Linked DNA regions of Homo sapiens: region 1 is linked to region 2. The links come from fine-mapping of genetic effects on gene expression. A gene starts in region 2. The other region holds a variant in brackets. All regions are shown on one strand. Distances are between the middles of the regions.

Region 1 (2,906 bases), 250 kb before region 2:
ATAGGTATCAGAACATAAAATGATCCAGCAAGTAACATTTTAAGAATTTGTTCTAAGGCCAAGCGCAGTGGCTCATGCCTATAATCCCAGCACTTTGGGAGGCCAAAGCGGGTAGATCACTTGAGGTCAGAGTTTGCGACCAGCCCGGCCAACATGGTGAAATCCCGTTTCTACTAAAAATACACAAATTAGCTGGGCGTGGTGGTGTGTGCCTCTAGTCCCAGCTACTCAGGAGGCTGAGGCATGAGAATCGCTTGAACTCGGGAGGCAGAGGTTGCAGTGAGCCGAGATCATGCCACTGCACTCCAGCCTGGGCGACAGAGTGAGACTCCGTCTCCAAAAAAAAAAAGAATTTATTCTAAGAAACTCATAAACAAGTTTTTTAAAGATGTAGACATAAGGATGTTTATTTCAATTATGTATATACCACCTAGAAAAATTTTTTTCTGCCAATACTGTCAATTGTAAGATGCATTTTAGAGATGTTAAAACACATAAAAGTGGCATGCACCTTCCAGTTCATGAAATTGCCATACAAGCCAAAAAGCAAAACCAATTAGTGGGGTTTACAGAGGTAGATTATGGCACCTATTAAGTGGCAATGAAGGTGTTAACGTTGATCTGTATCAACACAGAATAATGCCTACACTTGCACAGAGAAACGTTTAAATGGATCCTGTTTTAATAAGTAATAATATAACTAACATATTAAATACTTAGCATGCCTTTGCTCTAAGCTAAGTATTCAACTTCCCTTCTCTTTTAATCTCACGCAAATCTTGTAAAGGCAGATGCTGTTATCCCCATTTTACTGACAAAAAATCTGAGGCTTAATTTGCCCAAATTCACAAGTTAGGATTCAGATCCAATCTGGTTTAGTCCTGATTTTATGTTCTTTTGTTCTTTTCCCTTTTTTTATTTTTATTTTTTATTTTCGAGATGGAGTTTCACTCTTGTTGCTCAGGCTGGAGTGCAATGGCACAATCTCAGCTCACTGCAACCTCCACTTCCGTGGTTCAAGTGATTCTCCTGCCTCAGCCTCCTGAGTAGCTGGGATTACAAGCATCTACCACCATGCCCAGCTAATTTTTGTATTTTTAGTAGAGACAGTGTTTCACCATGTTGGCCGGGCTGGTCTCAAAATCCTGAACGCAGGTAATATGCCTGCCTCAGCCTCCCAAAGTGTTGGGATTATAGAAGTGAGCCACCACGGTCAGCCTTATTTTCATTTTTGAAACAGGGTCTTGCTCTGTCACCCAGGCTGGGATGCGGTGGCATGATCTTGACTCATTGCAACCTTGACCTCTCAGTCTCAAGGAATCCTCCTACTTCAGCCTCCTGAATAGGTGGGACTACAGCTGTGCACTACCACACCTGGATAATTTAAGGGTTTTTTTGTTTGTTTGTTTGTTTGCTT[T/GCT]TTTTTTTTTTTTTTTTTTTTTTTTTTGGTAGAGCCAGGAGGTCTCACTGTTGCCCACGCTGGTCTCGAACTCCTGGGCTCAAGCGATCCGCCTGCCTCCCAAAGTGCTGGGATTACCGACATGAGCTACCGCGCCCGGCCTCTGTAAATAAAGCCTTTCTATACACAAATGAGGTCAAACTAGAGAGAGAGGCCATTTAGGAAAAATTGCTGTCTTTTCCTCTTTTTTTATCATATACATAGATCTCTTTCTGAATGGTCTCCCAAGGAGTAATTGTTGTCTCCAAGTAACTGAATTTCAGGTGACTTTTACTCTTCATACTCTTGAATTAGTTACCATATGTATCAGTTTTATTATTTATTTTATTTTATGTTATGTTATGTTATTTTGAGACAAGAGTCTCTGTTGCCCAGGCTGGAGTACAGTGGTGTGATCTCACCTCACTGCAACCTCCACCTCCCGGGTTCAAGCGATTCTCCTGCCTTAGCCTCTTGAGTAGCTGGGATTATAGGCATGTGCCACCACGCCCGGCTTATTTTTTGTATTTTTAGTAGAGACAGGGTTTCACCATGTCGGCCAGGCTGGTCTCAAACTCCCGACCTCAGGCGATCCACCCGCCTTGGCCTCCCAAAGTGCTGGGATTACAGGGGTGAGCCACCATGCCCAGCTATCAGTTTTATTAAAAGAAAAAAGTTACATTCAGATAGTAAGCAGTTTACATTCTGCATCTAGTTTACCTTGAAGGATATTCTAGGAAGGTGAAGTGCTCTGCTGAGGAGTGGTTTTGTTTCTTAAGCGTTGAGATTTAACCTGATTTTAAATCTTAGGCTGAAGTTCACTGTGACTGTGCTCAGGATCATAAAACTTTGAGACATTTGAAAAACTGACCCAAAATGACTTTTTGAGGAAAACCTTCGTCCTTTTGGCAGCTACTCCCTTAATTTTACCTCCTTCTGGATGTGGAATGAGAGACATCTGAAGTATTGTAAAGAATACTGGCTCTAGGCGAGACCTGCCTGCTTGGAATCCTAGCTCTGTCACAGACAGATCGGGCATTGCGATCTTGGGCAATTTACGGGATGGCTTTGTGTTTTGGTTCTGACATCTGTAAAATGGGAACAATAGTTTCCTACCTTCCTGGGGTCATAGTGAAGACTAAAAGAGCCAATATGTTGGTGTTTTTTGTTGTTGTTGTTTTCTTTTTGGGAAGGAGTCTCGCTCTGTCACCCAGGCTGTAGTGCAGTGTAGTGTAGTGGTGCTGTCTTGGCTGACTGCAACCTCTGCCTCCTGGGTTCAAGCGAATCTTCTGCCTCAGCCTCTTGAGTAGCTGGGACTACAGGAGCGTGCCACCACACCCAGCTAATTTTTGTATTTTTAGTAGAGACGGGCTTTCACCATATTGGCCGGGCTGGTCTCGAACTCCTGACCTTGTGATCCGCCTGCCTCAGCCTCCCAAAATGCTGGGATTACAGGCGTGAGCCACCCGCC
Region 2 (2,906 bases):
CCACCTGGGCCTCCCAAAGTGCTGGGATTACCAGCCTGAGCCACGGCGCCTGGCTTTATAGTTTGTAGGCAAATAGATTTGAGTGGAGTCAGGAAGTTTCATGACATCCACAAAAAGAAGAGTCAACAAAATGTATCACAGTTCAGCATGTTCTTTTTTTTTTTTTTTTTTTTTGAGAAGGAGTTTTGTTCTTGCTGCCCAGGCTGGAGGGCAATGGCATGATCTCGGCTCACCGCAACCTCTGCCTCCTGGATTCAAGAGATTCTCCTGCCTCAGCCTCCCGGGTAGCTGGGATTACAAGCATGTGCCACCACGCTAATTTTGTATTTTTAGTAGCGACAGGATTTCTCCATGTTGGTCAGGCTGGTCTTGAACTCCCGACCTCAGATGATCCGCCCGCCACGGCCTCCCAAAGTGCTGGGATTATAGGCGTGAGCCACCGCACCTGGCCCTGTTCAGCATTTTCTAGACGGGAGTAGGTAAGCGATGTCAGTTCCACATAAAGTCCTGAGGACAGTCCTGATTACCTGTGCTTGATCAAAATCATCTTTCCGGGGGAAACCACACTTGAAGCTCCCATGTTTCAAGCCAACTCTAGTGTGAATTAGTCTCTTAACGAGCTAGACTTACACAAACCAGTTAACAGATTCATTTCACTTTGTAGTCCTCGAGGGATTGTTCCTGCTCCACTGCACAGACGAAAGCAATCCACTGAGACCACGGTACTGCGGTAATAAGACTTTGGCCAGGTGCGGTGGCTCAAGCCTATAATCCCAACACTTTGGGAGGCCAAGGCAGGCAGATCACTTGAGGTCAGGAGTTTGAAACCAGCCTGACCAACATGGCGAAACCCCGTCTCTACTAAAACTACAAAAATTAGCCAGGCGTGGTGGCGGGTGCCTGTAATCCCAGCTACTCGGGAGGCTGAAGCAAGAGAATCGGTTGAACCCGGGAAGCGGAGGCTGCAGTGAGCCGAGATCGCGCCGCCACTGCGCCGCAGCCTGGGCGACAGAGCCAGACTCCGTCTCAAAATAAAAAAAAAAAAAAAGAAAAAAAGAAAAAAAATGTGGAGCTAGCCCCACGGGTTTAGGACCCTTGACTCCTCGTTAGATGCTTCCCAGTATTTCAGAGCATCCCTTTGTTGGGCCCCCGGAAGGTCGGTCCCCTACTAGTAACGTGGGGTGAACGGGGGTACGTCTGCCGTAAAGTGGGAGGCGGCTGATGGGGACAAAGGCTGGGTCCCGAAGAAGCGCAGGGTCAGAAAAGTGCCCCCCAAAGCCGTCCCTGCACCCGAACCCTAGGATGGCCTCGCGCAACCGCAGGGCCGTCGGCACTGGTTTACGACCTGGGCGGGGCGGCCCGGACACTCTATGCAAATCAGCCCGGCGGACTCCGGAAGCAGCGCTCCCTCCGCTTCCGGCCGAGCCCGCGCCCCCCAGACCCCGAGAGCTCGCAGCTCCGGCCCGGCGGCGATGGCGCGGAGCGTGCGCGTGCTGGTGGACATGGACGGCGTCCTGGCCGACTTCGAGGCCGGCCTCCTGCGGGGCTTCCGCCGCCGCTTCCCTGAGGAGCCGCACGTGCCGCTGGAGCAACGCCGCGGCTTCCTGGCCCGCGAGCAGTACCGCGCCCTGCGGCCCGACCTGGCGGTAGGGGGCGCAGGGTCCCCACCCGGGCAGGGCCCGCTCGCTCCGTTCCGGGGGTCTCCCCCTTCTCTGTGAAGGGCGCAGAGCTCTCACCCTGGAACCCGCGGGCAGCGCACCCTGGGGAGGAGCCTTTGGGCGCGTGCCCCTGACCGACGCCCCCTCCGCCCCTCTGAGCTCGGGCCCGGAGCCCCCAGGAGCCTCCCTGCGGGTCCTCGCGGGAACGGGAAGCCGGGACCCAGAACTCTTGTCTTTCAGGATAAAGTGGCCAGTGTGTACGAAGCCCCGGGCTTTTTCCTGGACCTGGAGCCCATCCCGGGAGCCTTGGACGCTGTGCGGGAGATGAACGACCTACCGGAGTAAGGAGAGAGGGGGGCGGGCGGAGTCCTGGGCGGGCTCCTGGCTCCCGGCGGTAACCGCGTCCTTCTCCGCAGCACGCAGGTCTTCATCTGCACCAGCCCCCTGCTGAAGTACCACCACTGTGTGGGTGAGAAGGTGTGGCTGCCCCGCCCCTACTCCGCACGTGGAGCTGCCTAAATCCTGATTTTAAAAAGAAACCACCAGAAACCCAGAAGGTGGGGGTGGGGGGCTCTCAAGGGCTTAGAGCCAAGTCCCTATCCCTGAATTCCGGCTTCCATCAGGCCCTACTCACAGACTGTGTTTTCTACACAGTACCGCTGGGTGGAGCAGCACCTGGGGCCCCAGTTCGTAGAACGAATTATCCTGACAAGGGACAAGACGGTGGTCTTGGGGGACCTGCTCATTGATGACAAGGACACAGTTCGAGGTTGGACCCGTTATCCTTGGCAGCCTCCAGGCCTCTGGCCTGCCCGGATTAGGGAGAGGGAGTAATAATACCCATGACAGATGGCAGCGCGCTGTCTTTCACTGTCCTAGGCCAGGAGGAGACCCCAAGCTGGGAGCACATCTTGTTCACCTGCTGCCACAATCGGCACCTGGTCCTGCCCCCGACAAGGAGACGGCTGCTCTCCTGGAGTGACAACTGGAGGGAGATCTTAGATAGCAAGCGCGGAGCTGCGCAGCGGGAATGAGCGGGGATGCCGCGGGCAGCAGCTGGAGCTAAAGGAAGGGCAGGCCCACAGGGGCCACCGCAGAGCCGAGTCGGGGCGGCATCGTGCTGGTGCCTCTGGCCCCGTGGAGTGGAGCAGGCAGATACCGTTAAGCGCTGTGCTACCGGGCCCCAGGCCCAGCCACCCGGTACCTCCCGAGAGGCTGTCCCTGGACCCTGGCTGGCATGGAAATACA

The links. PIP is the estimated chance that this variant, and not a neighbour inherited with it, causes the effect.
Region 1: its variant is fine-mapped to the expression of NT5C in whole blood (INTERVAL, PIP above 0.99).

The regions. Positions count from the first base shown.
Region 1 is chr17:75,383,568-75,386,473 of GRCh38, reverse strand. The region is part of intron 2 of GRB2 (growth factor receptor bound protein 2); the gene reads left to right. Among named protein-coding and RNA genes, the nearest start is that of GRB2, 21 kb to the left of the region's middle. RefSeq lists a silencer at 1,539-1,739. The variant T/GCT (reference allele first, on the strand shown) is at 1,418.
Region 2 is chr17:75,130,274-75,133,179 of GRCh38, reverse strand. It overlaps NT5C (5', 3'-nucleotidase, cytosolic), which reads left to right and starts at 1,438. Exons shown (of 5, transcript NM_014595.3): 1 at 1,438-1,646; 2 at 1,899-1,999; 3 at 2,075-2,135; 4 at 2,313-2,427; 5 at 2,538-2,906. The coding sequence starts at 1,473. The coding sequence ends at 2,692. RefSeq lists silencers at 1,276-1,845, 2,215-2,419 and an enhancer at 2,456-2,545.